Linked DNA regions of Homo sapiens. The protein of the gene in region 1 interacts with the protein of each later gene in a biochemical or structural test. Each region holds a gene or a part of one and is shown in the gene's direction. Other genes may lie near its edges.

Region 1 (5,529 bases):
ACTGCTCATGGGCGGGTGCAGAAGACTGAGCTAGGCACGGAAGTTTGAGTTGGAGGCCGGTAGATGAGGGCCATGTGGAGGAAGGGAGCGACAGGGGCAGCCAGTAGCACCAGGGGAGCCAGGATTTTGCAAGAGAGAGGGAAAGGGACATGGGGGTGCCTGTCCCTGGGGGAGGGTTGGGTGCCCTGGGAGAGCCTGCCCTCCGGCCTCCTGTGTTCCTGTGTGAAATGCTGGAGGCTGGGGGCCCGGAGGAGCTCTGGGCTTAGGAAGATCTGAGGACTTTGACCAAATTATCAACTTCTCTGAGCCCGTTTCCTCCTCTGTGATGTGGGGATAGTAATGGTCCCCATCTCAGTGCATTGCGGGAGGAGCAGAAACAAGGTGGTGAAGCTTTTGACCAGGTGCTGGGAATGGAGCCCCTGGGACCTGCGTGGTTTGTCCTGCTCTCATGAGAGCACGGTGTTTTGATTCCCAAGGGACTCAGGGAGCGCAACCGAATAGGGGTCCCTTCCTCCCCTCTCAGTCTCAAAACTAGGGCCAGGGACTGGCCGGATCCCCAGAAGAATCTAGTTTATCCAGCAAGTAACTGCCCACTTGTCAGACAGCTTTGGTGCTTTGGGAGGTCCCTGCAGTCAGCTTCTCAAGCCCCAGGGCCTCCTGGGCCACTGACCCCTCTGCAGTGAGACAGGGACCAACGGCTTTAGTGTTTGGGGTCCTCCCTGCGAGGCCTCCTGAGCCAGCATTATCGCTTTCCTGTATTGATGGGTGGGGGGTTAGGCCCAGAGAGGACAGGTGCTTGGCCTCAGCTTGCTCAGCATGCAAGAGGTAGAAATGGGAATGGAAGTTGGGTCCTGAGCCCAAGGCTTCCGCTCTGCTCAGGCACCACCCTGCTGCAGATTAGGAAGGACTTTGTCTGGACCCCCCCGGGGCACGGCCCCAACTCTCCCTGGGTTAGACCGAGGCCGGTGCTCTGGAGGCTGGCCTGGGGTGGCGTGGGGAGGGGCTGCCTGGTGTCTGCAGGCATGGTTGGTTGTCTGAGAAAGGACATCACAGCCAATCCTGGCCTTCTCTTGTTGCTTGTCCCGTGGGCCCGCACCACAGGCCCAGCTGAGAGCCAGCCTGGAGGTTACCCAGCAGCAGGCCACCCAGGCCGAAGGCCAGCTACTAGAGCTGCGCAAGCAAAGCAGCCAGATCCAGGTACGAGGCCTGTGCCTGCCCGCCCACCATGGCCTCACACTGCATCCTGGGGCGGCCACCAGCTGGTCCCTGGAACACCAGGCAGCAGGGAGCGGGGCTGAGCAGGGAGCTGGGCACAGGGGTCCTGGGGAGGTTCCCGGGACCCTGCCTCCCCACATCCCTGACCCTCAGCCCAGCAGGCAGCCCTGGCCCTAGCCTCCCTTGGTATGGCACAGGGCCCTGGCCACCCTGAAGCCCCTCCTGTTCCCGCCCAGAACTCGGCCTGCATCTTGGCCTCCTGGGTCTCCGGCAAGTTCAGCAGCCTGCTACAGGCCCTGGAAATACAGCACACGACAGCACTGAGGAGCATCGAGGTGGCCAAGACGCAGGCGCTGGCACAGGCTCGAGACGAGGAGCAGCGGCTGCGGGTCCATTTGGAGGCTGTGGCTCGCCATGGCTGCAGGATCCGGGAGCTCCTGGAGCAGGTGGATGAGCAGACCTTCCTGCAGGTGCGAGGGCTCAGGGCATAGGTGGCGGACTTGCTTCCCTGCCCCTCAGGCCCAGGCTTACTTGTTCTCCCTGGGGCTCAGGAATCGCAGCTCCTCCAGCCCCCAGGGCCTCTTGGGCCACTGACCCCTCTGCAGTGGGATGAAGACCAACAGCTGGGTGACCTGAAGCAGTTGCTAAGCCGGCTGTGTGGCCTCCTCTTGGAAGAGGGGAGCCACCCTGGGGCACCAGCCAAGCCTGTGGACTTAGCCCCCGTGGGTAAGACTGACCCCAGGCCTCCCCCTGCTGTCCTGGGTCCAGCTGCCCCTCCCGCTGGGGGGGTGGAGGCGGGTCAGGGCCCACACATCGTGACCTCTCCAACCATTCCCTTAACACTGCTTTGCCCCCTAGAGGCCCCAGGTCCCCTGGCACCGGTCCCAAGCACAGTTTGTCCACTGAGGAGGAAACTCTGGCAGAGTAAGGAGGCCGTTCGTGTATGTGTGCCCCTGTGTGTGCGTGTGCAAGGAAGTGCCTGTGTGTGCTGTGAGCACGTGTGTGTGTGCATGTTCGTATGCACGTGTGAGTGAGGGGGGCACTTGTTTTGACTGTCCTGCCGGGACATCTGAGCCTGGTCCCACCCGCTGCACACCTCGTGCACATCCACCCTGAAGCAGACGCAGCCAGTGTGCGTTGAAGGACAGAGTCTGGGGCACAGACCCGTAATTCTTCCACTTAACACTGAGTTAATGGCTCTCAGAGCCCCAGTTTTCTCAGCTGTGAACGGGGCTGATAGAGGATTCCGCCTGCGAGGTCGTGGCGAGGATTAAGTGCTATGGTGACGGCCGGTGCTCAGCGTGCCTGGCGGAGGTTTAGCAGCGGATAAATGGAGATCTGGTTGTGCTGTCTTCCCCCAGCCCACTGCTGTCCTCCTTTCCCCAACAGATTATCGCAATCTGACCTTTGATCCAGTCAGCGCCAACCGTCACTTCTATCTGTCGCGCCAGGACCAGCAGGTGAAGCACTGTCGTCAGTCCCGGGGCCCAGGCGGGCCCGGCAGCTTTGAGCTCTGGCAGGTGCAATGTGCCCAGAGCTTCCAGGCCGGGCACCACTACTGGGAGGTGCGCGCGTCAGACCACTCGGTGACACTGGGCGTCTCCTACCCGCAACTGCCACGGTGCAGGCTGGGGCCCCACACAGACAACATTGGCCGGGGACCCTGCTCCTGGGGGCTCTGCGTCCAGGAGGACAGCCTCCAGGCCTGGCACAACGGGGAAGCCCAGCGCCTCCCAGGGGTGTCAGGGCGGCTCCTGGGCATGGATTTGGACCTGGCCTCAGGCTGCCTCACCTTCTACAGCCTGGAGCCCCAGACCCAGCCCCTGTACACCTTCCATGCCCTCTTCAACCAGCCCCTCACCCCCGTCTTCTGGCTCCTCGAGGGTAGGACCCTGACCCTGTGCCATCAGCCAGGGGCTGTGTTCCCTCTGGGGCCCCAGGAAGAGGTGCTCAGCTGAAGAAGGCATGGGATGGAGCCCTGGCATAGCTGCCACCATGCCTATGTGCCCAAGAGCTGCCCAGCTTCAGCTTGGGGACTGGAGGACCAGCTGTTGGCCTCTCTGTTAACTCAGAAAGAGATGGGAGGTTGGGGGAGGTGAGCATAAACGCAGAGTTCACTGTTGCAGCCTTTTTGAAGGGGACACAGTCTAGGAGGGGGATAAATGGGATGCCCTTGCCCCAGAGAGAACCCAGTTCTAGGTACTGTCTGGGCCTGGGAGGCGAGAGCAGTGCCCAGGGGACTTCTGGGCTTACAGGACAGCGTGTGTGACAAAATTCAGATCTACCTGAACTTGCCTCTGGAGATGATAAGGGCCAAAGGAGCAGTCAGGGAGGGGCGGTGAGCCAGAGTAGTCCCAGGGGGAGACAGATTCCTCCCTCCTCCCCGCCTGCAGCTCTCTTTAATTTTTTGTAACATTTGGAGAGACGTCCGTCCTGTCTTGTAGTCTTTTTATTTTGTGCATCCTTATAATTGTATTCTACAAACAATTTTGTTTTCTGCATTTAAACATTTTTGTGTTTTTAGGAGATGGTCTTGCTCTGTCACTCAGGCTGGAGTACAGTGGCACAATCATGGCTCACTGCAGCCTCGAGCTCCTGAGCTCAAAGGATCCTCCCACCTCAGCCTCCAGAGTAGCTCAGATTACAGTGTTTTCTGAAGTTTCCTGACTTAACATAAGCATTTTTCACATGATTGAAAATTTTCACTGATTGCTGTAGTCATTCTAATGACTATCAAGTTTATTTATCCATTATTGGACATTTAAATTTCTTTCTTTTTAGCTATACAAACATTGATGTGTTTTTTTTGAGACAGGATCTCCATCTGTCACCCAGGCTGGTGTGCAGGGGTGCGGTCATGGGCTCATGGGATTCTCCTACCTCAGCCTCCTGAGTAGCTGGGATTACAGGTGTATGCCACCACGCCTGGCTTATGATGAATATTTCTGAGTGGGATGTTTGGCCACATTTATGGTCATGTATGTAGGCTGTTACCTCAAGTGAGTCACTCAGGGAACAATGAGCACTTGAAGATTTTTTTATACAAAAGGCCACAGTGAGGCCACCTTGAGTCAAGCCGACTAAGGCCCCTCAACCCTGTCACTAAGCAGCACGTGACACTGGCAGGACCTTCATCTCCAGCATCCCACCCCTGGGTGTGGGACTTTGGGGCAGCCGTGTGTGCAGGTGTCGGCACAGGCTAGCTCCTCCTGGTTTGGTGTGGTGTTTGCCATTGCAGAGCAAGCTGCCACGAAGACCCCTGGGCATGATTTTGCTTGTATTTCCGGAAGTGGGGTTGCTGGGTCATAGGGCAGGTGTAATTTTTTTTACTTGAAATGTTCCACTTCTTGTTCTGGGAGGTGGTTCCAAGGGTGTCTGCTTTTGGCCAGGCGCAGTGGCTCACGCTTGTAATCCCAGCACTTTGGGAGGCCGAGGCAGGCGGATCACAAGGTCAGGAGTTCGAGACCAGCCTGGCCAACAAGGCAAAACCCCGTCTCTACTAAAAATACAAAAATTAGCCGGGCATGGTGGTGTGCGCCTGTAATCCCAGCTACTGGGGAGGCTGAGGCAGAAGAATCGCTTGAACCCAGGAGGTGAGGTTGCAGTGAGCTGAGATTGCACCACTGGACTACAGCCTGGGTGACAGAGCGAGACTCTGTCTCAAAAAAAAAAAAAAAAAGGGAGGGCTGTCTGCTTTTTGTAACTTGAAAAACTGGACATCTATGTTATATGTACTCATGGATAAATATTTCACAATAAAACTTTTTAAAAGGATAATACGTGTAATATACATACCCCCAATATATATAATGTTTTTATATTTGTAAAAAAAAAAAACCTCCCACGACGACCCCACCCCGATCACTGCCGTCATTGCAGCCTCCATCTTGTGGCCCTGCTCCTAGCCTGTGGCTGTTTGTTCAAGAGCAGGGCAGGGCCTTGGATTGGCACAGCCCAGGCAAGGACTTTCCAGCAAGATCCTCAGGTGGGAGCTCCCCAGACATGGGAAGGGAATCTGACATGTGCAGCCCCACAGCCAGGAGGCGGGCAGGACCTTGCTGACCAGCTAGGGGCAATGGTGGGAGCTGAAAGCCCAGCCAGGCAGGATGTATTGGCCTGGCCAGATGGCTGTCATTGCTGTCCCCACCTCATAGTCCCTCCTAATCCAAGGCTGCAGCAGAAGCACCCAACGGGCTGAGCCGCGCTCTGAAAGGGGCAGAGAGAGGAAGAGTTGGCCCCTTTCTGCTTCTGAGGTGGGAGGTGTTTGGGGTCATTTATTATGTGAAATTCATCTTCCTATTGGGTGGTGGTTCT
Region 2 (3,090 bases), on another chromosome or scaffold:
AAATCCTCGTACTCAGGCTGCATGCCAGATCAGTTCAATCAGAATCTCTGGGGCAGGGGAGTGGGGTGAGAGTGGGATCCAGGCACCAATATTACTTTAAAAACCCCCCCTAGTGATTCCAATGTGCCGAATGTGCAATCAAGTGTGTGAACCTGTGCTACAGAACTAGAGAAGGCAAAGAAAATGTTGTAGCTCCCAGCCTTTCAGCCAGGCACCAGAGCTCACAGGCGGAGACCAGGAATGGAAGAATTAATGTTAACAACCACCATTTACTGAGTACTACATGCTAAGGACCATATACTCCTCTTATTTAATCCTTGTAGCAATCTCTGTAAGGTAGGTAAAATTATGAATCCACATCTTGAAGATGAGAAATTGACACTCAGAGATATTAAATAATCTAGCCAAGGCCACAGAGCTAATTAAGTGGTAGAGCTGGGATTTAAACTTAAGTCTTCTGACAGTGATGTTTCCTGGTTATTATGCCACATTGGCCAGGGAGAGATCATATGCAGAAATCATACAGTTTTAATACCTTTTTTTCTACTGCCCTGCCAATTTTACATAGGCTGCAAGGGAGCCCAGATAAATGAAATTCTGTGTCTAAAACCAAATAATTCGCTGGTGGCCGGGCCAGTACCAGAATACTTAATCTTATCATTATTCCACCATACTTTGCTGCTTCTCTTAGCTTTTCTGCAGAAACAGGACCAATCTGCGTCATAGCTAGAAATAAAGCCATGGCCAGAAGCCCTCCTGTAACCATGCCCTTCTCAGCACTGTGTACATGCTTGTCAGGTGGCACTCCTTCCTTGGAGTGCCAGTGAACATTCCCTTCCCCTCTTTCTCTGTCTCTGCAGCCCCTACCCGTGCCTGTGGACCATCAGCAATGGTGCCGGAGGCCCCAGTGGGCCAGGCCCGGAGGTGCACGCCAGCACCCCAGGAGCATTTCTCCTCGGAAACCCAGCTGTGACTTCACCCCCTTCTGTGCTCTCCACCCAAGCACCCACTTCGGCTGGTGTGGAGGTTCTGGGGGAGCCCTCGCTAACCAGCATTGCTGTGTCCACCTGGACAGCAGTGGCCTCGCATCCCTTCGCGGGCTGGGGTGGCCCAGGAGCGGGTGGGCACCATTCTCCTTCCTCACTGGATGGTTAAGCAGGATCCTAGGAGCCTCTTTGCACAGCGATCCTTCCATGTGTAGAGTGCTTAGAAACCCCATCAACTGATCTAGTGAGTCAGACTGTGGAATCTCCCTTCCCACTAGCTGGAGGTGGAGGTGGGTTATTACAGAAGTCATACTGGGAGAGGGTTCAGTTTGGATGATGCTAGTTAGATCATTTGCATCTCTCCACCATTTTCTTCTGCACTCCCATTTTCTCTGCAGCTTATTCTTGCCATGCTTAGGTGACAGAAGTTTGTTAAGTACCATCCTTGTGCCCTGCCTCTTATTCTCAAATCGTTCTGGAAAGCCTCACTTCCTTTTCTGTGGAGAAGGTGCAAAGCTGTTAAATGAGCTCAGAGTTTACCTAGCTAAGGCCACTGCTTCCTGCTTTGTGAAGCCTGGAAAGTATGTGTGGCCACAGGGCTCAGGTTCACACTTCTGCTTTGAGACCAGGATGGGGTGTAAGCCATAGAGTAAGGTTAACAAAAAGAATAAAGCTAATCATGTATTACAAACAGCAGTGTGCCCAGACTTGTGGAAATGAAGTCATGTCACTCCTCTGCTCAGAAACCTTCAATGGTTCACCATTACCAGTGGAATGAAGTCAATTCTCCTCACTATAACTGGGTGTGGTAGTTTAAGCCTATAATCTCAGCCCTTTTGGAGGCCAAGGTAAGAGGATCGCTTGAGGTCAGGAGTTCGAGACCAGCTTGTGCAACAAAGTGAGAGCCTGTCTCTACAAAAAATAGTCATGCACACAAAATTAGCTGGGCATGGTGGCCTGTGCCTATAGTCCCAACTACTTAGAGGAGGATCGCTTGATCTCAGGAGGTTGAGGCTGCAGTGAATTATGATTGTGGCATTGCACTCCAGCCTGGGTGGTAGATCAAGGCTTTGTTTCATTTGAAAAAAAAGAAAGAAAGAAAGAAAGAAAGAAATCCTACTACGAGCGATCACACCATCTGGCCTGAAACCACTTCCCCAGCTTAGGTCCCTCTGTTATCCTGTTGGCCTCCTATGTATTGGTCAAGGCAGGCATCTCTGTTCTCTGAACATTCATTGCACTTTCCCACCTCTATACCTTGCCTGTGCCTTAGTGTCCTCTTTTTTCCAGTTCACCTGTGCGAATCCGACCCACCTCCCAGAGCCTGGCTGAAACGTCACTCCCTGCATCCAACATCTGATCTGCTGAGATATGTCTGATCTATCTCTGCTCGCTGTTCTCCCGTTGTTTTTGCCTCTGCCATAGAGCTCACCTCATTTTGCCTTGTATTTTTGTTACCTGTGAGTGTGTCTCTCCCTATTAGACTGTAAGCCTCTCGAGGGTGAGGCCTAGCCTTCTTGTCTTTGTAACCCACAGCAGCTGGTACTGTGCCTTGCCTATTGTAGGTGCCCAATAAACATTTGCTGAACTGAATTGGTGTAATGTGCATGTGTGCTACAAGGACGGTGTGAAGTGGCTGGGGGGCAGATCTCAGAGACACATGCCCCATGACACATAGGTGCATCCGTGTGGGAGCCTAGGAACATGCTGGCTGTTAGTTACACGGGCTTCTCATCTGAGGCACCACCAATTGTCAGTGAATGACAATCATATATGGAGACAGGGTGTGTTAGAGTGGTTATTCCCAAATACTGGTTCTTGGATCCCCTAAGTCAGGATCACCTGGAACAGGGGACCCTTGCTAGACATACAGATTCGTGGGTATACCCCGTACCTGTTGGATCAGAATCTTTGGGGCTGGCGTTCAGGAATCTGCATTTCAAACAAGAGCTCCAGGCATTGGCCCTGGGCTAGGTTTGGAAACTCCTTGCCTAGAAGAGAGAAACAGGATGATAAATACTCCAGGAACCTTATTTCAGATGAGTTTTTACCTCTGCCCCAGCCAAGGTCATTGCTATAACCCGTGAGCAGAATCAGTTTCGTG
Region 3 (7,040 bases), on another chromosome or scaffold:
GTAGCTGCCTCCTAGACCTTCTTGACTCCAAAATTCTTTTTTTTTTTTTTTTTTGAGACGGAGTCTCGCTCTGTCACCCAGGCTGGAGTGCAGTGGCACTATCTCCGCTCACTGCAAGCTCCGCCTCCCGGGTTCATGCCATTCTCCTGCCTCAGCCTCCCGAGTAGCTGGGACTACAGGCGCCCACCACCATGCCCGGCTAATTTTTTGTATTTTTGGTAGAGATGGGGTTTCACCATGTTAGCCAGGATGTTCTTGATCTCCTGACCTCGTGATCCACCCACCTCGGCCTTCCAGAGTGCTGGGATTACAAGCGTGAGCCACCACGCCCGGCCCAAAATTCTTTTATTTACCGATATGTTAACAATGTATTCATTCAGCAAGTATTTATCAAGGGGCTGTTATGTCCTCTAGGATCTTAGGATAGTATCAGTTGAACATAGAAAGTTGGTGGCTAGAAGATAACCAGTGCCCTTGTCACCATTCTGCCAAGGATCATAGCTTGTTAAATTGAGGAGCCACATATATTTATAACATATTCGTCATTTTTCTTAGATTTTAGTATCATTTTGAAATGGCCTAACACTTTATAAATAGTTGTACTTCTCCTTTATCCTAGATATAAACCACAGTACTTCAGGATCCCATTATGAAAATTCCCAGCGGGGACCTGTGTCTTCTACAAGTGATTCTAGCACAAACTGTAAGAATGCTGTTGTAAGTGACTTGTCGGAAAAAGAAGCATGGCCCTCAGCCCCTGGCAGTGATCCGGAGTTGGCTTCAGAATGTATGGATGCTGATTCTGCCTCCAGTTCTGAATCAGAGAGAAACATCACTATCATGGCTTCAGGGAACACAGGTGGTGAAAAAGATGGCCTTCGGAATAGCACTGGACTTGGTTCCCAAAACAAGTTTGTAGTTGGTAGCAGCAGCAATAATGTGGGCCATGGAAGTAGTACTGGGCCATGGGGTTTTTCCCATGGAGCCATAATAAGCACATGTCAGGTCTCTGTGGATGCTCCTGAAAGCAAATCTGAAAGTAGCAACAATAGAATGAATGCTTGGGGCACTGTAAGTTCTTCATCAAATGGAGGGTTAAATCCAAGCACTTTGAATTCAGCTAGCAACCATGGTGCCTGGCCAGTATTAGAGAACAATGGACTTGCCCTAAAAGGGCCTGTAGGGAGTGGTAGTTCTGGCATTAATATTCAGTGCAGTACTATAGGCCAGATGCCTAACAATCAGAGTATTAACTCTAAAGTGAGTGGTGGTTCTACCCATGGTACCTGGGGAAGCCTTCAGGAAACTTGTGAATCTGAAGTAAGTGGTACACAGAAGGTTTCATTCAGTGGTCAACCTCAAAATATTACCACTGAAATGACTGGACCAAATAACACTACTAACTTTATGACCTCTAGTTTACCAAACTCCGGTTCAGTGCAGAATAATGAGCTGCCTAGTAGTAACACAGGGGCCTGGCGTGTGAGCACAATGAATCATCCTCAGATGCAGGCTCCATCAGGTATGAATGGCACTTCCCTTTCTCACCTTAGCAATGGAGAGTCAAAAAGTGGAGGCTCTTATGGTACTACATGGGGTGCCTATGGTTCTAATTACTCTGGAGACAAATGTTCAGGCCCTAATGGCCAAGCTAATGGTGACACTGTGAATGCAACTCTAATGCAGCCTGGCGTAAATGGTCCTATGGGCACTAACTTTCAAGTTAACACAAACAAAGGAGGTGGTGTGTGGGAATCTGGTGCAGCAAACTCCCAGAGTACATCATGGGGAAGTGGAAATGGCGCAAATTCTGGAGGAAGTCGAAGAGGATGGGGAACCCCTGCACAAAACACTGGCACTAATTTACCCAGCGTTGAGTGGAACAAACTGCCTAGCAATCAGCATTCCAATGATAGTGCAAATGGCAATGGTAAGACGTTTACAAATGGATGGAAATCTACTGAGGAAGAGGATCAGGGTTCTGCCACATCTCAGACAAATGAGCAAAGCAGTGTGTGGGCCAAAACAGGAGGTACAGTGGAGAGCGATGGTAGTACAGAAAGCACTGGACGCCTTGAGGAAAAAGGAACTGGGGAAAGTCAGAGTAGAGACAGAAGAAAAATTGATCAGCACACATTACTCCAAAGCATTGTAAACAGAACTGACTTAGATCCACGTGTCCTGTCCAACTCTGGTTGGGGACAGACTCCTATTAAGCAGAATACTGCCTGGGATACAGAAACATCACCTAGAGGGGAACGAAAGACTGACAATGGGACAGAGGCCTGGGGAAGCTCTGCAACACAGACTTTTAACTCAGGGGCATGTATAGATAAGACTAGCCCTAATGGTAATGATACCTCATCTGTATCAGGGTGGGGCGATCCCAAACCTGCTCTGAGGTGGGGAGATTCCAAAGGCTCAAACTGCCAGGGGGGGTGGGAAGATGATTCTGCTGCTACAGGAATGGTCAAGAGCAATCAGTGGGGGAATTGCAAAGAGGAGAAGGCTGCATGGAATGACTCGCAAAAGAATAAACAGGGATGGGGTGATGGACAAAAATCAAGCCAAGGGTGGTCTGTTTCTGCCAGTGATAACTGGGGAGAAACTTCAAGGAATAACCATTGGGGTGAGGCCAATAAGAAATCCAGCTCAGGAGGTAGTGACAGTGACAGGTCCGTTTCCGGTTGGAACGAACTTGGTAAAACTAGTTCTTTCACTTGGGGAAACAACATAAATCCAAATAATTCATCAGGATGGGATGAATCTTCTAAACCTACTCCTTCCCAGGGATGGGGAGACCCTCCAAAGTCTAATCAGTCTCTAGGTTGGGGAGATTCGTCAAAGCCAGTCAGCTCTCCAGACTGGAACAAGCAACAAGACATTGTTGGATCTTGGGGAATCCCACCAGCTACAGGCAAACCTCCTGGTACAGGCTGGCTGGGGGGACCTATACCAGCCCCAGCAAAAGAAGAAGAACCCACAGGCTGGGAGGAACCATCCCCAGAATCTATACGTCGCAAAATGGAGATTGATGATGGAACTTCAGCTTGGGGAGATCCAAGCAAATACAACTACAAAAATGTGAACATGTGGAACAAAAACGTCCCAAATGGCAACAGCCGTTCAGACCAGCAAGCACAGGTACATCAGCTGCTAACGCCTGCAAGTGCCATCTCAAACAAAGAGGCAAGCAGTGGCTCTGGTAAGTTTCTATTTTATGAAATCAAGCCTTGTTTTAACTTACTGTTATTATAAGATTTGTATAACAAAGTACTTGGATATGCACACAAAGGCTGTTCTTACTGTAATCCAGAAGCAGCTTGAAAAAAATTATAGGGGTGATGTTTACCACCAGAGAACAGAACTCCACTTTTGGCAGTGTTGTTTGAGTCCTGCACACTTCATTCTCTATTAGAAATGCAAGAGAAGGCGAATTGGACAAAGGCGGTCAAGTGGGAATGCTGTACACTTCTCCAAGTTGTTTTTGAGTTAGGCCTTAACTTGTGGTTTTATTATTTGACTAAAATATCTCCAGAAATAAAACAAGTATCTCATAAATACAGTACTCTCTAAACATTAGGTTGTATATTTGGCTTTAGAAGGGATTTTTTTTTTTAAGTAGGTGAGAAATCCAACTCTACTTAGATACAGTATATATGTTTGTGTATTTAAAACATTTGACAATACCTTTCTAGTATATCCTTACTTTCCTCTCTAATAATGAACTAATTCCTATCTCTGCAAATTTTCCCAACAACATTTTTGTTAAGTGTGATTGGCTACATTGTCTTTGTTAATAAAAGTTTTATTGACTTAATAGTCTCATTGGAAGTGGATATGGGAGTGCTTTCATGAGCTAACTTTTTGGCACTGAATTTTTTTTTTTTAGTCTAAGTATAGTTTGTTGTATTAATTTAGGTTTGATTCTTAAAAGGAAGAAGTATGTATCTAAGATGAAGCCTGTTGGCTTTGATTTTTTTTAATGAAACATTTATGGCTTTTTTTTTTTTTTTTTTTTTTTTTGCTTTGGACAACCTCAGCCTAATACTTCAGATTTTAAAATAAGCATTGTTCAGCATATGTAAAAAGTAGGTGACCCATTATTGTTAGCTGGGTAGTAAATTGTTTTTCCAGTGTAGGTGGTGTGGAAGGGGTACACTTGTGGCACAATTTTTTTTTTTTTTTTTTTTGGAGATGGAGGCTTTCTCCGTCACCCAGGCTGAAGTGCAGTGGCATGATCTCGGTTCACTGCAGCCTCCACCTCCCAGGTTCAAGCAATTCTCCTGTCTCAGCCTCCTGAGTAGCTGGGACTACAGGTGTGTGCCACCACGCCCAGCTAATCTTTGTATTTTTAGTAGAGACCAGGTTTTGCCATGTTGCCCAGGCTGGTCTCAAAATCCTGACCTCAGGTGATCCACCTGCCTCAGCCTCCCAAAGTGCTGGGATTACAGGCATCAGCCACTGTACCCAGCTGGTACAGATGTTATACATACACTGTCACCCAGCTTATCACCTGCTCCAATTTACAAGGTTTGGTTTAGAATGACTTGACTTTTTCAGGAATTAAACTGATGCTCAAAGGAGAGTGGTTTTCCATAACTATGCAAAAATCAGCTCTAGGTCTAGAGGGTAATTATGAAAAAAGTTAAAAAAATTCTCACCTTATATTAATGGGAAATAGTTTGTCTTTTTTTAACATAAAACAGATGCCATCTTTTTGCCTATCACAGTATCATTATTCAGTACATAAACATGAAGTTCTTCATCCTTGGTCCCTAAGTTTTCTTTATTGTCCCTTATTCCACTGCACCTCCTTACCTTCTATGCTGATGACTTCTTTTCCCACACTTTCTAAAGGCTGGGGTGAGCCCTGGGGGGAGCCTTCTACTCCAGCCACAACTGTGGATAATGGTACTTCAGCATGGGGTAAGCCCATAGACAGTGGTCCCAGCTGGGGGGAACCCATTGCTGCGGCATCCAGCACATCCACGTGGGGCTCCAGCTCTGTTGGTCCACAAGCATTAAGCAAATCTGGTAAGTTATTGACAATGCCTGGTAGCTGTTATGTAGCAGTGGCGAACACTCACTGACTATAATTAAATAATTAGATAAGGTTTCTATGTTATTTATAATATATTCATATAATGTAACATGATAGATGATGTTCAGTATTTTGCTCTTTGATTTTGTAACGTGGTTTATTCTCTTTCTGAATTTTCCTCTTTTCTCATATTTCTTAGAACTGTAACTATTCATTTGCATATACTTCATCAAATCTAAATTATATTTTACCAAATTAGGTTATCTAGGAAGAGTCTACTAGCAACTTTCATGCCATCCAGCCTGAGAGGCCAACTAGTGTAGCCATGAGGACACATATTCAGACTGTCAGATGATTCCCTGAAAGTTACAATTAGCATAGTTCAGAAAAGACCCAAGATTGAAATTAACATTGTCATTATCCCATAGGCTGTGTACAAGATGCCCGGTAGGAATCCCAAGGGCCATGTGTGAAGATAAGATGCTTTCTGCTTAAGGCTTTGAATACTCTCTGGCCATTCTCCCTAAAAATATATATAAAAATTAATTCTTTCAAATTTCATTCATCTTCTTTGTCCTGTGCATCACTATGCAGATTATTAAGTGGGTACAAACAAGAGTGCTACCATTGTCCATGTTCAAGAACTATGATTTGTTAAAGGCATGGAGGAGTTTTATTAAATTTTTAAATAAGAATATATTATTTTTCATGGAAGGTTTAGCTCAGTATAAAACATACTTTCCTTCTGTGCAGATGCAGGAAGGGAAATAAGTGTGCACGTGTGTGTTTTCTTAGGTTCTCTACCCAATTTTTAATATATACTTATTCTCCAGAAGGAATTCTTTTATTAAAGTATGTTTCTCTTTATATCACAAATCCACAATCAGGGCCAAAATCTATGCAAGATGGCTGGTGTGGTGATGATATGCCATTGCCTGGAAATCGCCCCACTGGCTGGGAAGAGGAAGAGGATGTGGAGATTGGAATGTGGAATAGTAATTCATCTCAAGAGCTTAACTCATCTTTAAATTGGCCACCATATACAAAGAAAATGTCATCGAAGGTAAACATTTCAAGGGCAAAGCCCTTGAAACTTTAAATTCCAAAGGTAGTTTACCCACAGAAAATTAACTTTTCGCCTGCCCATTTCTGGCGGTCAGTACAGTCCAGGCAGCCCCCACCTTAGGTATAGCCACTTGTATGGGCAGCCACCTAGAGAAACATAAGAAAGACCACAGGAACTTCCTTTCTCCCCACTGCTACAGCTTGGGATTTCTCTCTTCCTCCCCCTCCACCAGTGCTGCCTGGGACAACCCCTCATCCTAGGGTGGTGCCTGCAGTGGTGAGGATGAAGAGGAGGGCAAATCTCCATGTTGACTCTTTCCATCCCACTGCCAGTTCATCTCCCATTTCATTTCCTCACCTGGAGTCCCCCGCCACCCGCTTACCCAGAGTCACCATCCTCCTTATTCACCTGTCATGTTTGTCCCTATCCCATCCCAAAAGGTCCTGTGACAAAAATCCCTAGGAATGATCTGAGCTTGGTTTTGCTTTTATGTGTGGACAAATCATATTCCTAAAGCTGGCTGTACATCGAAATCCCATGGCATTTGTTAAAAATGCAGCTTCCTGTACCTCAGGTCTACTGAAGTTTTGGAAATTGGACCAAGTTTCTTATCCTAAAGAAACTCCTCAAATGTCTCTGATGCAGAGCCAGGTTTGGGAAGCACTGATTTAGAGCACTGGTTCTTAAGAGGTGGCACTGGGGGCTGCTGTCAGATCCTCCTGGGGACCATTTTCAAAATATGTGCCCAGTCCCCCAGGTGGTTCTAACATAACATCCTAACCCACCCTACTTGAGAATGATTACCTTTTGAGGGACCTTAGAAGTCAGATACCAGTGGATAGCTGGACTAGGTAACTGCCAAGGTTCCTCACTTTTAATCCTGGGATTCTAAGTCTAGGACCTGCCATTTTCATTTTTAAAATTTTTCAT
Region 4 (7,624 bases), on another chromosome or scaffold:
AATACCTATATTCTTATTATATTCTTAATTTTGTTGCACTAAAATAAAGATAGGAGTTGTGCTCGCTTCGGCAGCACATATACTAAAATAAAGATAGGAGTTTATGCATTACTCACTAATAAAAGTCAGTTTCTCTGCTGGCATGGAGAATAGGAGAGTATTGCCAAACAACAACAACAACAACAACAATAATGGCACCTCTCCTGCCAAGCTGGGAAATTTTACTCCAGGGATTTCCAATATGAAGTTCTACCTAAGCATAGAGTGTCTGGCCCACTTGAGTGTCATAACTTATACATCACCCTAACCTAGTTCACATAAATCCTAACCAATTACCAAACAATAATATGAAAAGTTTGATCAAAGCATTTTCTTCTGAAAAAGATGAGCCAAGTTTGAGGCCTCTTTGAGGTAGGGAGGAAAGTTTCCACAGTTAATGCAACTCAAAATAGGAGGTTGGTGTGCCCAGTTTCCATTGCCTCATTCATCAAGAGAGTTTGTGTTTTGACTTTTGGAAGTCAGTTTTATGGCATGATGTAACGGAGAAAATAATGAAGATTGCAAATTTTCTTTATGCTTATACTTTAATCACTGCTGCTTTATGGATATTTAAGAAGCTAATGCAAGAGAAGTAGATTTAGTCTTTTTTAATTTAGTTACATGGCTAAGTTCTGGAAATTTTTGAAGAAATGTGTTGAAGTGTTCTTAAAATTATAGTCTCAGATCTTACTTGCTGGACCTCCAAAGGCCCCAGAAGGCTGCACACACTTTTCCTTGATGTTACATAGCATAATGTAACATATGCTATGTAACGTAACATCCTCTATGTTACATACCAGTTTCTCTACATAGCTAATGCAACTAACATAACACAAAATCCTCCATGTCCATTATAAAAGTGACTGTTTTGGCAGATCATGAGGTCAGGAGATCGAGACCATCCTAGGTAACACAGTGAAACCTTGTCTCTACTAAAAACACAAAAAATTAGCCGTGCATGGTGGTGGGCACCTGTAGTCCCAGCTACTCAGGAGGCTGAGGCAGGAGAATGGCGTGAACCTGGCAGGCGGAGCTTGCAGTGAGCCGAGATTGCACCACTGCACTCCAGCCTGGGCAACAGAGAAAGACTCTGTCTCAAAAAAAAAAAAAAAAAAGACTTTTGTATTCAGATTCAAACTTGACAAGTGAATTGAGAAGATGGTACCCAAGACTGTTTTTTTTTCCTTCTTTTCTTTTTTAGATAGTGTCTTGCTCTGTTGCTCAGGCTGGAGTGCAGAGCACGATGATCTCAGTTCACTGCAACCTCCACCTCCCAGGTTCAAGCCATTCTCCTGCCTCAGCCTCCTGAGCAGCTGGGATTACAGGAGCATGCCACCACACCTGGCTAATTTTTGTATTTTTAGTAGAGATGGGGTTTCACCATGTTGGCCAGGCTGGTCTCAAACTCCTGACCTCAGGTGATCCACCTGCCTCAGCCTCCCAAAGTTCTGGGATTACAGGCGTGAGCCACCACGACCCGCCGACTGTTTTGCTTTTAATGCTGAACTCTTGAGTTCAAAGGATTTTAAAGACTCACATATTTAGTGAAAATAAGTCCTAATTTTGAAAGCTATTTCACAGATTTTGTTGATTCTAAGTTGCATTCTCTGCAACTCTGAGACACAACCACAGGATGTGTGTGATGATTCCTGTGATTATAAAGCCCTAGACATATTAGAGTGGCTCATTTTCATAAGAAACCACTTGTGCTAAAAGCAAACTACACCATTAACACACAATAGAAGTGAATATCTTAAAGTTAGCTGTGAAATGGAAATACATATTAATGAGTATAGTAGTTCCCTCTTATCCCTGGTTTCATTTTCACCAGTTTTAGTTACCAGTGGTACAGTACAATAAGATATTTTGAGAGAGAGCGAGCATACATTCACATAACTTTTATTACAGTGTACTATAATAATTGTTCTGTTATTATAATTATTGTTAATCTCTTACTGTTCCTAATTTATAAATTATACATAGGGTTTGGTACCATGTGCAGTTTCAGACATCCACTGGGGATCCTGGAACATATCCTACCGTGGATAAGGGGGAACTACTGTAATTATTTACATCAGCTCTGCTCCTGTCTTATTCCAGGATGCTATAACAGAATACTATAGACTGTGTGGCTTAAACAACAGAAATTTCTCACAGTTTGGAGGTAGGGAAGTTAAAGATCAAGGTACCAGCAGATCCAGTGTCTGGTGAAGGTATGCTTTCTGGTTTGCTGTCTTCTCCCTATATCCTCACTTGGCAAGAGAGCAGACAGAGTGATCATCTCTCTCATGTTTCCACTTACAAGGGCACTAATTCCATTCATGAAGGTTCCACCCTCATGACCTAAGTGTCTCCCAAAGGCCCCACCTCCAAATACCATCACATTGGGGATTTAGTCTCCAACATACGAATATTGCGAGGGACACAAACATTTAGTTTATAGCAGCTCTCCTCTTTCAGTCCCATAAAGAGGAGGGCTCTGCCTTGCCATACCAATTCATTTGTGATTTTGTGATTCCAACTCACAAGGAAAGAGAGCTGGGGCAAAGCATCTGAAGCACACAAGAGTAGGGCAAGTTTTGAAAGAGACATAAAAACAAATACTGTGTGTGCAAGGGAAGTGGATGAGAGAAAAAGTGTTTAAGAGACATTGTTTGCTATGTGTCTATTTCACAGTGTTCAGCTATGAGAATTTTTTTTTCTTTTTTTAGACAGAGTCTTGCTCTGTCACCCAGGCTGGAGTGCCATGATGTTATCATAGCTCACTGCAGCCTCAATTTCCTGGGCTCAGGTGATCCTCTCACCCCAGCCTTCAGAGTATCTGAGACTACAGCTGCATGCAACCACACCTGGCTAATTTGTGTATTTTTTGTAGAGATTGGGTTTCATGATGTTGGCCAGGTTGGTCTTGAACTCCTGGAGTCAAATGATCCTCTCTCCTTGACCTCCCAAAGTACTGGATTACAGGCATGAGCTACAGTGCCCAGCCTGAGAATTTTTTAAAAGTCATTTTGAAATTGGGTTTCAGGTTCTTGCCTGTATTTTTTGAATATGGTACTGCTCTAAGACTGGAAAATGTGGACCACAGATTTATAAATACTACACAAAATACTAATCCTAAACTATAGAAATTTCTGGACAAATTTTGAGTAATGTGGGTGGTTACCTAGCTATTTTATGAAACTGCAGAATTAAAGGCCTTTATCTGTAAAAATAACCTCATCAGATTGTTATGATTTTAAAATAAAAACACCTTCACACCTCCTAGAAGACTCCAAGGTGTAAATATCCTCTTTAAATGTACCAGTAAGTAGACTAAGTCCTAGAAGAGTATAATTTTTTTTTTTTACAAATAAAGTTTATTGTACTGTTTGGGGGATGGTATATTTATTACTGCTAAAAAAATTACCATTTTGAATTGCTAATTGGCTATAACAAAGATCAGTAATACAAATTTAAAACATTCATAAAACTGAGCTGAAAACATGCTCCCAAGCCTAGTGGGCAGTAAGGAATCTGGCCAATATACTGTACAACTTGAACATTCAGTTCTTAAGTAGTTTACAACATGGTTTAGCCCTCTTTTAATAATAATAATAAAAAGGTAGGAATATCTTGTATTCCTCCCGCTAGTTGGATGTATTAAAGTGCTTTCACAAAACTAAGACCATGGTGTTAACTCAATATAAAAGGTTGAAAAGATGTTCCTTCTTTTCTTCAGAAAGTTAATGTTCCCTCTCCATATTTGTATTTGCTCAAAGATGAAGCTTTGCATCTGGGAAGTCCTTGAGTAGAGTGTCTCAGAAATAGAAAGCCTGGACTCTCAAGGCTTCATTCCTTTGGCCAACATCTTTGGAGCCTCTCCTTTATGCAAAACACAGTGGCCGGTGCCAGGGCAGCACACAAGCGTCCACAGGAGGCAGGCCCTGCTGTGAGGGGCCAGGGAAGGGCCCAACTAGGAGTGCCAACAACCGCCTAAAATACAGCAGGGCGGCTGCACGGTTAACGTGCGTGTAATTGACTACAGCAAGAAGGATGAGGATCTGTCCATAAATGCCAAGTTCCCCTTCCCGTCGAGTCCGTGTCCCCCATGAAGCCCCGGGTCTAGAGAGCTGGGTCTAGAACTCGCCATTCCGCCCTGAGGGTGTCAAGTGCAGCGTGGAGAGACCTGAGGGGGAAACAAAAAGGCCGAGACAGCCGAAAGGACCAAGCCCGCGCGACCCCCGAAGGCGCTGACGCACGTAGGGCGGCCGGGCGGGGGTCCCACAGGCCTTCAGCGCCGCTTTTTGCCGGGGAGGGAAGCCCGCGGTTCTGCGGACCGCGCCGTCGCGGTCGAGGGTCTGCGCCAGGCTCAGGGTAGGGCGAGGGTGTGTCGCCTCCCGTGCGGCTAGGCCCGGGGCTCGGGGGTGGCCTCGCGGCGAAGCCCCGCCCCCGGCACCGCCCCTCAGGCGCGCGAGCCGATCCCGCGCGCGCCAACCCTTTCCCGGGTCATCGCCCCTCCCCTCTTCCGGGCCGCGAGCCCCCTGCGCGCCGCTTTGGGGCTGCGCTCACTCGTGTGCGCGCTCGTCCGCCCGCCAGTCCTCTCAACGCGCGCTTGGCCGCCCGACGACGCGGGAGCCGCACGCGCCGGACGAGGCTCGCTGCGCTCCCTGTTGCCCAGCGCGGGCCCGTTGAGGCGGAGCCCTCAGTTCCCGGCCAGGACACGGTCTGGGCCGCCGAATCTCCGGCCGAAGAGCGGCGGCGGCAGCGGCGGTGAGGAGACCGGGCCGGGGAAAGGCAGACATGGCGGGGCTGTGGGTATCGGGGGAGGGTGGTCCCGTCGCCCCTGCGGCCACGTCGAAGGCTCGCTGGCGGGCGGCGCACCGGGGACAGGGGAGGGGCAGGGGATGGAACCAGGTTGCATGGGCTCCGGCTCGGCGCCAGAGCGGGGCTGCGGGCCGCGAGGGCGGCCCGCGAGGCTTTCCGCGGGACCCTCGGCGGGCGCCTGAGGAAAAAGACGCCGCCTCAGGGCTCCTGCCACGTTTCCCACAGCGCGTTACATTCCGCCTCCGGGTGGGCGACAACCCCGCGGCTTCCCACCCTCTGTCCACCCCCTTCGCGTCGGTGTTTTTTCTGGAGCTCCGCTTGTTTGCTGGAGAGTCGCGCCTCCGGGAAGCCGGGTCCTCGAACCCAGGGCCGCCCGCCGGGGACAGCGGACCCGCGGGGCAGGCGCACCCTGGCGAGGATGTTGTCGGGGAGGCTGGGCATTGGGCGCCAGGGCCCTTCCCCTTGAACTTGGGGAAAACCGGGATTGCAGAAGTTGGGCGCAGCTCAAGGCGGTTCTTTCAAGAGCGGGTGGAGATGTTTGATCCCTCCTCACCTACCTCTCTCAAAACCCCAGCGGGAGAGCCTAGCAGCAGGTTTCGATGGCTTCAGAAAGTCCAACTCTTAGCCCCTTGGAAAATTATTTCCCCTCTTCATGGCTTTGTGGCGCCGCTGAGGTCGGGCCGGGGCTCCTCACCCCACGGGCCAGTCTTCTCGCGCCCTCCACCTTGGGAACGTCTATCAGGAGAAAAATGTGTTCCTAGAAACGTTTGCGATTAGCTTTTCGTTACAAGGGAGGGAAAAGTACAAAAGTTATAAACTCCTGCGAGGCCGAGCTTGATTCTGGATTCCCTTTGGGTTTTATCCACGCAGCCGTGAGCAGAGGAGCCTTGTGGAACAAAGTAGAACTTGAGGAGCAGCCGCCGCGGTGACGAGGTCCCAGGATGACGTCACCGTGCGATATTTAAAATGGGAGCCTTTTGCTCTGAGTGTGGGTGGAGGACGCCTACTTACTCAAGACGCCTGAGGTCTTCTTGGCCCTGCTTGCCTCTGGTGGTTCTTGCCCTGACTGTAACTCTCCCTCTTTCACCTTTTGGTACTCCTAGAATACTGGTGGGAGTGGGCTTATTTTTCAGCTGTTCGAGCTATCATTTCTTCAAACGGGGAAAACAAAAGTCCAAATGAGTCATCTTGTGTTACAACCAAAAGCAACCACTAAGTGGTTCTTTCCTTCTTTTCTATTTTTTTATATGAAGCAGAGCAAACAGAAACAAATCCAGAACTCAGATATGTGGCACATAGTTGGCAAATGTAATGAATGAGGAGAAAGATCTAGTTAAAAGATTCAGTACATTTCTTTAGTGTGGTTCCTTGTTTGCTTTGCTGGAGTGGAGGCTAATGTAGTTCCATCAGCAAAACTTTCTTCCCAACCCGTATATTAAATTGCCTTGGGTTTTCTTTTCCATCGTATCGTGGTGGAATATAAACGTAGCTTTACAAAGTGGAAATGGCTTACATTTTTCAGGAGGAGGCTGCACAGCAGTCGTGGTGGGCTGGGGTTATGTATACGTGTACACTCGTGTGTGGACCCATGCCCGGTGCCTGCTAGCTGGCTGTAGAAGGTGAATTTCTCATTCTAGGGTTCTGGGAGGAAGATTTGTGTGCCTTCCCCTCCATCAGGCTATCTGCGGCTGCCAGCACACCTCTCAGATAACTGTGTAGAATTTATTTCACAGTGAGGTTCCTTGTTTGAATTTGCACTTGGAATAAAGGAGTCATATTCTGAAGAGAGACTGAAAGAGCAGTTTGAGAAAAGAAAGCTAACAATCAGCTTTATTTTTTTGGAAATGTGGGAACACAAACTACTGCTAGGTTAGTTGTTTTTATGCTAAACATAGCAGAGGCTGTATGTTTTTAATACGTAATTGGCTCCCAAAAAGGTGATGTTGCTTACTAAAGGCAGCATCTTAATAACTCCAGGTTACAGCAGCCAGATGAATGAGCTCACTGAGTAGAGACAACATACATCAAAACAATCTTAGGACAAGGGTTTGCCCTTAAGGATTAATCAATGATAAATCAGATATACCATTTTTAAAGTCCTTTGAGGCAATCCAAAATGTAGCTAAATCTCTGATTATTTCTTTTAGTTTGTTTTTCTGCGGGTGACCTGAATTTCCATTTCTTAAATATGTCCTGATAGATCCACTAGTTTTTGTGTCTCTTAACTTGTGGATAAATGTATCTCTCTTCCTGAAAGAGTACTTTCGGAAAGTCAATGCTGAAATTTTTTATGTAGAACAGTTTTGGGATTTAATTTATATACCATGCAATTCACCCATTTAAAATGTACAGTTCAATGGTTTTAGTATATTCACAAAGTTGTACAACCATTACTATAGTGAAATTTAGTAAATATTTTTATCACCTCAAAAAGTAACCCTGTACTTATTAGCAATGCTCCTTTTCTTGGTTTCCCACTTCCCCGTAGGCCACTAATCTGTCTTCTGTCTATATAGATTTGCTTATTCTGGATATTTCATATCAATGGAATCGTACAATATGTGGTCATTTGTGACTGGCTTCTTTCCCTTAGTGTGATGTATTCAAGGTTCACCCATGTTGTAGCTTATATTAGTACTCATTCGTTTTAACTGCTGAATAATATTCCATTACATGTATATACCACAGTATTTGTCCATTCCTTAATTGGTAAACATATAGATTGTTTTTACTTTTTAGCTATTATGAATACTGCTGTGGGCATTTCTGTGTTCAAGGT

What was found.
Region 2: the proteins of TRIM65 (region 1) and TBX19 form a complex in vitro, tested with the Homo sapiens proteins (one study listed by BioGRID).
Region 3: of the proteins of TRIM65 (region 1) and TNRC6A, one has a biochemical effect on the other in vitro, tested with the Homo sapiens proteins (one study listed by BioGRID).
Region 4: the proteins of TRIM65 (region 1) and BTG3 form a complex in vitro, tested with the Homo sapiens proteins (one study listed by BioGRID).

What each region holds. Positions count from the first base shown.
Region 1 is NC_000017.11:75,888,423-75,893,951, reverse strand, and holds the end of TRIM65 (E3 ubiquitin-protein ligase TRIM65), read left to right. Parts: intron 1-1,101; coding exon 1,102-1,197; intron 1,198-1,412; coding exon of another isoform or gene 1,413-1,451; coding exon 1,452-1,685; intron 1,686-1,766; coding exon 1,767-1,941; coding exon of another isoform or gene 1,942-2,073; coding exon 2,074-2,139; intron 2,140-2,604; coding exon 2,605-3,173; 3' UTR 3,174-4,989; downstream 4,990-5,529. UniProt on the Homo sapiens protein: E3 ubiquitin ligase that plays a role in several processes including innate immnity, autophagy or inflammation.
Region 2 is NC_000001.11:168,311,848-168,314,937, forward strand, and holds the end of TBX19 (T-box transcription factor TBX19), read left to right. Parts: intron 1-860; coding exon 861-1,155; 3' UTR 1,156-2,579; downstream 2,580-3,090. UniProt on the Homo sapiens protein: Transcriptional regulator involved in developmental processes. Can activate POMC gene expression and repress the alpha glycoprotein subunit and thyroid-stimulating hormone beta promoters.
Region 3 is NC_000016.10:24,788,613-24,795,652, forward strand, and holds part of TNRC6A (trinucleotide repeat-containing gene 6A protein), read left to right. Parts: intron 1-619; coding exon 620-3,205; intron 3,206-4,860; coding exon 4,861-5,037; intron 5,038-5,931; coding exon 5,932-6,107; intron 6,108-7,040.
Region 4 is NC_000021.9:17,609,866-17,617,489, reverse strand, and holds the start of BTG3 (protein BTG3), read left to right. Parts: upstream 1-4,588; 5' UTR 4,589-4,791; exon of another isoform or gene 4,792-5,811; coding exon of another isoform or gene 5,812-5,833; exon of another isoform or gene 5,834-6,689; coding exon of another isoform or gene 6,690-6,714; intron 6,715-7,624. UniProt on the Homo sapiens protein: Overexpression impairs serum-induced cell cycle progression from the G0/G1 to S phase.